3 separate regions of the Homo sapiens genome follow, and regions 2 and 3 are each linked to region 1. The links come from fine-mapping of genetic effects on gene expression. A gene starts in region 1. Each other region holds a variant in brackets. All regions are shown on one strand. Distances are from middle to middle. Region 1 holds the start of CNTLN (centlein). Region 2 overlaps CNTLN (centlein). Region 3 overlaps CNTLN (centlein).

What was found. PIP is the estimated chance that this variant, and not a neighbour inherited with it, causes the effect.
Region 2: its variant is fine-mapped to the expression of CNTLN in monocytes after interferon gamma (Fairfax 2014, PIP 0.95).
Region 3: its variant is fine-mapped to the expression of CNTLN in pancreas (GTEx, PIP above 0.99).

What each region holds. Positions count from the first base shown.
Region 1 is chr9:17,133,305-17,137,393 of GRCh38, reverse strand. CNTLN (centlein) reads right to left here and starts at 2,354. Exons shown (of 26, transcript NM_017738.4): 1 at 1,969-2,354. The coding sequence starts at 2,328. RefSeq lists an enhancer at 1,510-2,073.
Region 2 is chr9:17,263,344-17,267,432 of GRCh38, reverse strand. All of the region lies in intron 5 of CNTLN (centlein), which reads right to left. Among named protein-coding and RNA genes, the nearest start is that of CNTLN, 130 kb to the right of the region's middle. The variant G/C (reference allele first, on the strand shown) is at 1,941.
Region 3 is chr9:17,228,893-17,232,981 of GRCh38, reverse strand. All of the region lies in intron 3 of CNTLN (centlein), which reads right to left. Among named protein-coding and RNA genes, the nearest start is that of CNTLN, 96 kb to the right of the region's middle. The variant A/G (reference allele first, on the strand shown) is at 2,052.

The sequences.
Region 1 (4,089 bases):
ATATAAAAGTGAATATTTAATCACCTAAATGCTTTTTACAAAACAATTGGGAGTTCAATTACTATTTTTCCCCAAGATTCCCGAAGAGCAGGAGTCTGATTTGACTAAGATTTTTATGGTGCGGGATACTGCCTACAATTATATAAGAGTATTAATATTACAAAATCTAAGAGATCATCATTCTAGACTATTATGACCATCTCTGTATTCTTACATTTGCCAAGAGTATGTCAATCATTTTCCTAGTCTATATATGTCCGAGGTCACAAAAGCCAACACCATGTTTGGAGCCACATTTTTAAAGAATGTAAGTATTTGTGGGAAGAGGTTCATCAGGCTGTTTCCAATAGACTGACTTCCTTAACCAAGTCGGTCATAAAAAAGTATCTTAGCTCTTTAGCCAGCTAAAGGCCTAACTATGTGGGGAGGCAGAAGTGGGAGGAAAGAGTGCGGAAAATATGCCAAAGAGTGTCTTAGATTAGGACTCAGAGTATCAAAGGCCTTTATCATGGGTTCACATCTTAAAACTCCCCAAAGGGTGAGGTCTGCAGATGACAAATGCTTCAATTCATTGTTGTCATTTATTTATCCCTTTGCTCCTTATCCAACGAAGAACAGAAAAATGGTAAAACGAAAAGAGGGCACCATATTAAATGTCCCAACCTTGTTTAACCAAAGGCACATTCAATTTGAAGATGGTCCCATTTTTACACCCTTCACTCAGTCAGCAAGGACCTATAAAATGGGCAAAAGAATCCAACAGAACAAACTATGAGAGAATGAATTTCTGTAATCCCAGCACTTTGGAAGGCCAAGGCTGGCGGACCACGAGGTCAGGAGATCGAGACTGTCCTGGCTAACACGGTGAAACCCCATCTCTACTAAAAATACAAAAAATTAGCCAGGCGTGGTGGCGGACACCTGTAGTCCCAGCTATTCGGGAGGCTGAGGCTGGAGAATGGCGTGAACCCGGGAGGCGGAGCTTGCAGTGAGCTGAGACTGCACCACTGCACTCCAGCCTGGGCGACAGAGAATGAATTTCATGAACTGTTTTATTAAACTGATGATACTGTTCACAAAGTTACTTTGATGTTCAGCAGCTCCTAATTGGTTTCTAAGTTGAAGACAGAGTGACTTAAAGATCTACTGTTCAGTGAGTTTCCCACATCCAATCTCCCAACCCTATCTAAAGGTTCTGGTAAAATCAAAAGAGATGATGGTAAGGATGCAAAACTAAAGGAAAATTCAATCTCTTTGAACATGAGTATAGTCAAGTCCATCCTTACAAAAACTCTACAAACAGGAAAGTAATTTTAATGCAATTGATTTAGCAAATGTTTTTCACTGGCAAGATCACATGAAAATGTGATTTCTCACTCAAGGACCGCGGAATTACCATAGCTGGTTAATAAACAAGTACCAAGCATCATCTATTGTTAAGTTCCCGGCTCTGAGACTTTCTAAACGTTACTCGTCTGTGTTTACAACTTAAGTTTGACTGGGTAAAAACAAAGCCAAGTGTGGGTTTGAAATTTTAAAAACAGGCTCCTTCATCGATGGATTTTACTCTAACCGAAGTGTTTACACTTTCCTGTTCATTTCAACTAGTGGACTGCATGTCACTCCTGGGCCCCCGGCAGGTATCAGCTACCGTCACCACCAAGAACTTGGGCTTGGGGGGGAAGCGGAGAGGATGCGACTGCGAGTATCCAAGTGACCAAAACCAAACCCGGGCGCGGAGGCGAAGCCTGTCTGGCCGCAGTTCGGAAAGGGGCAGGGGCCCGGGTTTGGGGAGCCGGGCGCAGCCGCGTCCCTCCAGCCCCCGGCCGCGAGCGAAGCAGGGTGTGCATCTGCCAGGGAGCGTCGCTGGGCGGGGTAGGTCCCAAGGCAGAGGGAGAAAGGCGCGCCTCCCCACGGGTCCCGGCCCCGCTGTGGTGGGGAAAGGGGGACTGCGAGACTCCTCGATACCTGACACAGGGCCAACTCCTCCTTTAGGCTGCTCAGCTCTTCCTCCAGCAGCTGCGTCCGGGTCACCATCGCCTCCTCTACCGAGATGCCCTCTAGCCGTCTGGACCCCATGGGCGCGCTGAGGAGGGGAGCATGAGCCGGAGCTGCCCCCCCAGGCCCTCGCCGGCCCCCTGACCCTTCTTCACCCACCCAGATTTTATCACTTTCGTCCGCGACCACCTCCCGCGCTGCGCCGGCAAAACCCGAGGCCTCGCTGCGCATTGCGTGTACTTCAGCTCCCCGCCCAACACGTGGGGACCTGGGGCCCAGCTGTCGCGCTGGGGGCGAAGGGTGCGGTGAGGGAGGCGAACGCGCCGCCATGGCTGCGGCTGCTAACGGGTCAAGTTCCCTGTTGGAAACTCCACCTCCCTTTCCCCAACCCGGCGAGCCCGGAACGCCGAACCGCGCATGCGCGAGGCTTTTCCCGCCTTGGCCCGCGGTGTCCCGTGTTCTCTGGTCCTGGCCGGCTTCCCGCGGGCAATGCGCCCAGCGCGAGCCTTGGGGTACGCACGCGCCGTGGCCCGAAAGGGTAAGGCCGGTCCGCCGGGCAGGCCATCCCAGCGTCCTGTGCCTGAGTCCTTGGCCAGGATCGCCTGGATTTCCCGCCCACCTAAAGCCCTGCCTGCCACTTACATCCCACCTCTTAAAGCCTTCCTTGACAAGCCCCCAGCCCCAAATGATCCTTAACTGTGAAATCCCTCTCCTTCAAGGCCCCTGCCAACTCGTGTGACACGTTTCATTGACCGCCCTGGAGTGTCAGTTACACGGCTAATCTCCCCAGCCCTGTTGTAAGCTCCTTGAGGATCAAGGAATACGTTTTACACTTAAGTGTTTTCTTCACACCCCTTGGCAAAACTGCTTTAGTACAGCTGACATCCAGCTGACTAATGTCAAGGAGATGTGGAAAGCCTTGTGCTGATCTGGGACTATCAAGCAGGTTTCCAACTTGAATGATGATCCTTTGTACACCCTTTGTCTTTTGTTTTGCAGGAGTCATGATTTCCTTTGAGTTTTTATGTCAGCTTCTTTATGCGTTGGCTGGATATCAGAGGAAGTGTAGCCCACATTGCTGAACAGTTTGGGTCCTTGGAGCAGTTTGAAATCAGTAATTTGGAGCGTGGATGAAGAAACAAGACCTACTTTATCTTTTGTTCTCTTTTTTTTCTTTTTCTTCTGGCTTTCTTTATAAACTTCAAATAGGTAGTAATCGTATCTTTCTTTGCCCTTCAAATACTTTGTTACTATTGATAAGATTAATGAGATGCATATTGAGCTGGCACCAGAACATCCCTGAAAGTTAGAACTGCCCTCTTCTTCAGAAAGGGTTCCAGAATACTTGGGGAAAGCTGAGATGGGGGTTGAGAGCAGAAGTAGAGAGATGACCACTTTACTGTTAACTTCATTTAACCAAAATATCACCATCTCTGCATGAGAATCTAGTCAGGATGCCAAAAGACACCCTCCCAATTAGAATCCTGCCAAGGCAACCAAGATAAGTGGACTTCTTTCAAACTGAAGGTGAATTCCTCACAAAAACTTATTAAAGAGTACATTAGAAAAAGTATGTTTATAAGCCTGTCTTAGAACTAGCTAACCTACTGAACATTTACCATATGCTGAGTCCAGTGCTAAGCACTTTTCATATATGAACTCACTTAATACATATGTCACCTTCAATTAGATTATTATATATCTCCATTTTTACTAGTGAGGAAACAGACTTGCAAGGTTACTGTAACTTCTCTGAAGTGCCATGTCTGGTATCAGAAAAGCTAGGCTTTGAATTCACTGAATTCCACTTAACTCTGAAAACCTGTACTTTGATCGCTACCCTGTCTCCACACCTGTGACTTGAAATACAACATTTGGTCTTGATAGTCTGTGAGATTTCACTAGACTTAAGACTGGGAAGTCTAACCACATAAGTTACGTGTTTGGCCCCAAATCAGTATTAATGCACATTTTTAATTGCTGTATGTCATTCACTCAAAAGGACATCATTTCACCTGATCATAAAAAGATCCTTTTGAAAAGCAGTGGTATAAATATGTATATGTGACCTCCCAAAAGGATAATATCCTG
Region 2 (4,089 bases), 130 kb before region 1:
AAGGGAAGCCCATCAGACGAACAGCGGAGCTCTCGGCAGAAACTCTACAAGCCAGAAGAGAGTGGGGGCCTATATTCAACATTCTTAAAAAAAATAATTTTCAACCCAGAATTTCATATCCAGCCAACCTAACCTTCATAAGTGAAGGAGAAATAAAATACTTTACAGACAAACAAATGCTGAGAGATTTTGTCACCACCAGGCCTGCCCTAAAAGAGCTCCTGAAGGAAGCACTAAACATGGAAAGGAACAACCGGTACCAGCCACTGCAAAAACATGCCAAAATGTAAAGACCATCAAGGATAGGAAGAAACTGCATCAACTAACGAGCAAAATAACCAGCTAACATCATAATGACAGGCCCAAATTCACACATAACAACATTAACTTTAAATGTAAATGGGCAACATGCTCCAATTAAAAGACACAGACTGGCAAATTGGATAAAGAGTCAAGACCCATCAGTGTGCTGTATTCAGGAAACCCATCTCATGTGCAGAGACACACATAGGCTCAAAATAAAGGGATGGAGAAAGATCTACCAAGCAAATGGAAAACAAAAAAAGGCAGGGGTTGCAATCCTAGTCTCTGATAAAACAGACTTCAAACCAACAAAGATCAAAAGAGACAAAGAAGGCCATTACATAATGGTAAAGGGATCAATTCAACAACAAGAGCTCACTATCCTAAATATATATGCACCCAATACAGGAGCACCCAGATTCATAAAGCAAGTCCTGAGTAACCTACAAAGAGACTTAGACTCCCACACAATAATAATGGGAGACTATAACATCCCACCGTCAACACTAAACAGATCAACGAGACAGAAAGTTAACAAGGATACCCAGGAATTGAACTCAGCTCTGCACCAAGCAGACTTAATAGACATCTACAGAACTCTCCACCCCAAATCAACAGAATATACATTTTATTCAGCAGCACACCACACCTATTCCAAAATTGACCACATACTGGGAAGCAAAGCTCTCCTCAGCAAATGTAAAAGAACAGAAATTATAACAAACTGTCTCTCAGACCACAGTGCAATCAAACTAGAACTCAGGATTAAGAAACTCACTCAAAACCACTCAACTACATGGAAACTCAACAACCTGGTCCTGAGTGACTACTGGGTACATAATGAAATGAAGGCAGAAATAAAGATGTTATTTGAAACCAATGATAACAAAGACACAGCATACCAGAATCTCTGGAACACATTCAAAGCAGTGTGTAGAAGGAAATTTATAGCACTAAATGCCCAAAAGAGAAAGCAGGAAGATCCAAAACTGACACCCTAACTTCACAATTAAAAGAACTAGAGAAGCAAGAGCAAACACATTCAAAAGCTAGCAGAAGGCAAGAAATAACTAACATCAGAGCAGAACTGAAGGAAATAGAAACACAAAAAGCCCTTCAAAAAATTAATGAATCCAGGAGCTGGTTTTTTGAAAAGATCAACAAAATTGATAGACCGCTAGCAAGAATAATAAAGAAAAAAAGAGAGAAGAATCAAATAGATGCAATAAAAAATGATAAAGGGGATATCACCACCGATCCCACAGAAATACAAACAACCATGAAAGAATACTACAAACACCTCTAAGCAAATAAACCAGAAAATGTAGAAGAAATGGATAAATTCCTCGACACATACACTCTCCCAAGACTAAACCAGGAAGAAGTTGAGTCTCTGAATAGACCAATAACAGGCTCTGAAATTGTGGCAATAATCAATAGCTTACCAACCAAAAAGAGTCCAGGACCAGATGGATTCACAGCCGAATTCTACCAGAGGTACAAAGAGGAGCTGGTACCACTCCATCTGAAACTATTCCAATCAATAGAAAAAGAGGGAATCCTCCCTCATTTTATGAGGCCAGCATCATCCTCAAACCAAAGCCTGGCAGAGACACAACAAAAAAAAGAGAATTTTA[G/C]ACCAATATCCTTGATGAACATTGATGTAAAAATCCTCAATAAAATACTGGCAAACCGAATCCAGCAGCACATCAAAAAGCTTATCCACCATGATCAAGTGGGCTTCATCCCTAGAATGCAAGGCTGTTACAACATACGCAAATCAATAAGTGTAATCCAGCATATAAACAGAACTAAAGACAAAAACCACATGATTATCTCAAAAGATGCAGAAAAGGCCTTTGACAAAATTCAACAATGCTTCATGCTAAAAACTCTCAATAAATTAGGTATTGATGGGACGTATTTCAAAATAATAAGAGCTATCTATGACAAACCCACAGCCAATATCATACTGAATGGGCAAAAACTGGAAGCATTCCCTTTGAAAACTGGCACAAGACAGGGATGCCCTCTCTCACCACTCCTATTCAACATAGTGTTGGAAGTTCTGGCCAGGGCAATTAGGCAGGAGAAGGAAATAAAGGGTATTCAATTAGGAAAAGAGGAAGTCAAATTGTCCCTGTTTGCAGATGACATGATTCTATATCTAGAAAACCCCATTGTCTCAGCCCCAAATCTCCTTAAGCTGATGAGCAACTTCGGCAAAGTCTCAGGATACAAAATCAATGTACAAAAATCACAAGCATTCTTATACACCAACAACAGACAAACAGAGAGCCAAATCATGAGTGAACTCACATTCACAATCGCTTCAAAGAGAATAAAATACCTAGGAATCCAAATTACAAGGGATGTGAAGGACCTCTTCAAGGAGAACTACAAACCACTGCTCAATGAAATAAAAGAGGATACAAATGGAAGAACATTCCATGTTCATGGGTAGGAAGAATCAATATCGTGAAAATGGCCATACTGCCCAAGGTAATTTATAGATTCAATGTCATCCCCATCAAGCTACCAATGACTTTCTTCACAGAATTGGAAAAAACTACTTTAAAGTTCATATGGAACCAAAAGAGAGCCCACATCACCCAGTCAATCCTAAGCCAAAAGAACAAAGCTGAAGGCATCATGATACCTGACTTCAAACTATACTACAAGGCTACAGTAACCAAAACAGCATGGTACTGGTACCAAAACAGAGATATAGATCAATGGAACAGAACAGAGCCCTCAGAAATAACGCTGCATATCTACAACTATCTGATCTTTGACAAACCTGAGAAAAACAAGCAATGGGGAAAGGATTCCCTATTTAATAAGTGGTGCTGGGAAAACTGGCTAGCCATATGTAGAAAGCTGAAACTGGATCCCTTCCTTACACCTTATACAAAAATCAATTCAAGATGGATTAAAGACTTAAATGTTAGACCTAAAACCATAAAAACCCTAGAAGAAAACCTAGGCAATACCATTCAGGACATAGGCATGGGCCAGGACTTCATGTCTGAAACAACAAAAGCAATGGCAACGAAAGCCAAAATTGACAAATGGGATCTAATTAAACTAAAGAGCTTCTGCACAGCAAAAGAAACTATCATCAGAGTGAACAGGCAACCTACAAAATGGGAGAAAATTTTCGCAACCTACTCATCTGACAAAGGGCTAATATCCAGAATCTACAATGAACTCAAACAAATTTACAAGAAAAAAACAAACAACCCCATCAAAAAGTGGGCGAAGGATATGAACAGACACTTCTCAAAAGAAGACATTTATGCAGCCAAGAAACACATGAAAAAATGCTCATCATCACTGGCCATCAGAGAAATGCAAATCAAAACCACAATGAGATACCATCTCACACCAGTTAGAATGGTGATCATTAAAAAGTCAGGAAACAACAGGGGCTGGAGAGGATGTGCAGAAATAGGAACACTTTTACACTGTTGGTGGAACTGTAAACTAGTTCAACCATTGTGGAAGTCAGTGTGGCAATTCCTCAGGGATCTAGAACTAGAAATACCATTTGACCCAGCCATCCCATTACTGGGTATACACCCAAAGGATTATAAATCATGCTGCTATAAAGACACATGCACACATATGTTTATTGTGGTACTATTCACAATAGCAAAGACTTGGAACCAATCCAAATGCCCAACAAAGACAGACTGGATTAAGAAAATGTGGCACATATACACCATGGAATACTATGCAGCCATAAAAAATGATGAGTTCATGTCCTTTGTAGGGACATGGATG
Region 3 (4,089 bases), 96 kb before region 1:
TTATTAGGCCATATCAAAATGTGCCTGACATCAATCAAATAACATAAAAATAGATGCATAAAAATGGCTCCTCCACAATTTACAATCAATTTTTCTACTCTCAGCTAAGTCTTATGCCCCTTTAAGACTCGACTTCCACCTCCTCAATAAAAGCTTCCCTTACTATCTCAGTATTTTGTAATTCTTGCCATTTCTAAATTTTTGTATTATCTATATTATACATTTGATACACAACAAACTACCGAGTGTTGCTAATAATCTATCTACTCATAATATCTCCCAAACTAGACTGTTAAGTGTTTACAGATGAAATTGACACTAAATAATAAATTCAATAATATAAGCATTAAAACTGTTTGTAAAATACCCATAAGCCTATCCTTTGAAGGAGAAATGACAAAATTTGAGCATATCTTGTCTATTCTGAAATTAGTTAAACTCTAGGAAGAACCAAATGACAAGTTTTAAAAGAGTTTTCCCATTAAAGTAAACTAAACAGGCACTGACAATATAAATGATACCAATAGAGAGTCCTTTCATGAGAATTATTTAATAATTTAGATTTTGGCATTTGAGTGAACTTATAATAGTAATTCAAAAGGACAAACACAGACTCAATCTGTAAATTAAAAAGCATAATAAAATTTAAAAAATTGGTTAACCAAAATTATTATATTCCGATAATTAGTTTAATATTAAATTGCATAATATAGTTACTTATATCACAAAATCATTAAAGAAAATAAGTTAGACAAAGATTCTCTCCCAACACAAGAGCACTGATAAACTCTAAAAGTGTAAAAGTTTGTATAAATCAACATATTTTCCTAATAAAATATACCCTCTATAAATAATGAAAGCACAGACATATACAGTTAAAGTTCATTTTAAAATTAAGCTTTATTAATATTTTTCAACAAATCTTTCTGAATAGAGGCAGGTAAATTCTTAATAGCCTGGCTTGAGTTAATATTAAAACAGCAAACAGAATTCAGAGGAACCATAAAGCAATAAGGGATGACAAGAGAGAGAATGTCTGGAACAAATAATTTATTACAGATAAGCCATGAAATGAATGAATAATTCAAATAATGGTCAAGAGAAGTCTACAGAGTAACAAGAGAATAATAGTGAGTATGAAGCAGGCATAAAAATGGGTGGGGGGTAGGGAAGGGGCATAAGGCCCAAACCCCAAACTCTATTAGGCAATACTTGAGCATAGTTAATTTATTATTTATACTGACCTATTTTCAAAATGGACATGAAACTTTTAACAAAAAACAAACAAAGCAGTAATTAAACCACAATAACTAAAGCAATGATAAGTGGAGAAAAAGGAAGGGATAAAAGAAGTAATTGCAATTATGAAACAAAACTTCTGAGCTTCCTAGAAGGTAAGGAAAAAATGAAATATAATGTTAAAGAGCAATTATCATCTAATTAAATACAATTTACTAGGTTATCATAAGTCATGCTATCAAAGCACAATACTAGAAGGGAAATGTATTAACATTGTTTTATAACAGTGACAAAGCTAAAACATAGTCTTACCCAAAAAAAGGCAATTCTTTATACTAATAATTATTAGATTGCACCCTAGGAAAGTTTTTCTGCAAACAGCTAAAAAAAAACTGTGTGTGTGTGTAACTTTCTAGTAATTTCACTAGATACAGAAGTAAGAGTTAAATAAGCTGAAGGATTTGTCATTCTAATTCTTACTCTATCTCATAGCTATAAATCTTGAACATTAGGAGCTATTTAATATTTTTCAGTGGAACAACAACAATTCAATGGAGGGGGCTTCTGGTTTCCAGTCCAGCATATAAGGAACTTGGCAGTCATCTTTCTCATTTACACAATAAGAAAAAACGCTGAACAAACTGAAAATCAACAACTCTTTTCAGATCCATCAGAGAATTGAGACTATCCAGCAAACCAACGCTCCCAAAATTGAAGAGACAGACATGAAAATAGAGAGAATAACAACTTAATGGAACAGATGCCCAGGAGAAAAAACTTCCACAGGAGCCAGCACCAGGGTGGAAAAACTT[A/G]TTCTGTAATTAATGAATTACTGGAAGATCAATATGGACAAGTCTGAGAGTTTAAAACTCAAGGATGGCTCAGTCATGCTTGGGGGAAGGGGGCAAGCAGTACTCAGAGGAACCATAAAACAATAAGAGGTGACACATTTTCATAAGTTTAACCTACTGGACCCCTGTCATGTTGTCACAGGGAAGATCACACAATTATTCCTTCCTGTTTCCAGTATGTGGAGGGAGAAAGTAACCATCTTTAAACACACTCAGAGTATTCTTTTCTTCTTACCAAGGCCTGCCATCAAGAAAAACTATTTTACCAGAGCCCAGACTCATGGGGTTTTACCTGAGCCTAACTAACCAACTTGGAAAAGGGAAATACCCAACTCTAGCACCTTCTAGCCTTCCTGTCTCTCCTAAGGGGGTAAGGGGAGGGGGGAAACAAACAAACAAAAAACTAAGAAGCACTTTTGAAGGTCACAGTCCAGAAGCACAGCTCACCATGAAAAAAACCCAAACATAACACTACAGACCGCTTCCTCTCCTCCCCCAACACCCCACCACCACATCAATGGGACTATTGTATAATTAATAGGTTTGACCAAACAAAGCAGTTTAAATAGCAACTATTAAATTAAATTGCCTCTGTAGGTAGCTAACTGTAACCTAACAACATGTAAACACAACCCTACTTGAGAGTATATTTTTGTATAGTAGCCGAGTCTCAGCCAATCACAGCAGCCAAGCATTCAGCCAATCACAAGTGCAAATTGCCAAAACATGTCCAAATAAGGCAAACACCAAACTGTAACCAATCTGGCTATTTCTGTGTGTCACTTCCATTGTCTGGCTGTACACAGTCCCAGCCCACACTGCGGAGCAGAGCTCTATGAACCACTTTTGGTCCTGAGTGTTACCCAATTCGTGAATTTTTTTCAGCTCAATTAAACTCCATTGAATTTAATTTGTCTAAGGTTTTTCTTTTTAAGAAAACTGAATTATGCATATCAAGGATATTTATAAAATCTCTACAAAAATTCAAATAAAAGGCACGGATACCAGAGTTCTGCCTCTAACTCATACCACAGCGAACAGTGGAGACAGCCTAATATCTAGCCAGATAAACATAAAACCTATTTACCCCAGCTGTTTTTACCCATTTGGTTAATTTTATATGTCAGTTTGGCTAGGCTACCCATGGTACACACGTTCTTATCTAACACCAGTCTAGATGTTATTGTGAAAGTATTCTTTAGATGTGGTTAACATTTAAATTAATGGACTTTGAGAAAAGCAGATTACCCTTCATAATGTGGGCTGGCCTCATCCAATCAGTTGAAGGCCCCAAGAAAATACTATGATCCCCAGAGGAGGAAGAAATTCTACCTCCAGGCTACCTTAGGATTTGCAATGTAACATAAACTGTTCCCTAGGTCTCCATTCTGCCAGGCTGCCCTGCAGAGTTACTTGCCAGCCCACGACTGCGTGAGCTATTACTTAAAACAAATCAGTCAATCAATCAATCCATCCCACTATCTCCCCACCCCATAATGTCACATTTCTTCATTCCTTTCCATTACTTTGTCAGAATTCAATGATCTCTTAAAATTTCATATGCCATCCCTGTTGTATTGCTTTCTAAAATTCATTTTAAAACTTCATGACTGCTAAATGTAATGTCTTTTTCAAAAACCCACTCCATTTTTTGCAGCATTTTACGACAATGACAACATTTTGCTTCTTGAAACTCTCTCTTCTCAATTCATGAGATATTGCATTGTACTCTCTCCTTACTTCTATAAAGTCTTTTCACCTCTTTCACTACAATTTTTCCTTCCTCATTAAAAATATCAGTAAATATCTTGTTCTCAAAATTCTCACTGCTTAAAGTCTTCCCTCTAACTAAACTATTAAATACCCACATCTCCAGGTCAAAACTCCTTCATCAGATTCATGCTTCCAACAGTTTGCTAAAAATCTCTAAATGGAATTCCTATCAGCATCTCAAACACAAACTTTCTAAGAGGAGCTCAAAACCTTACCTTCAAAACAA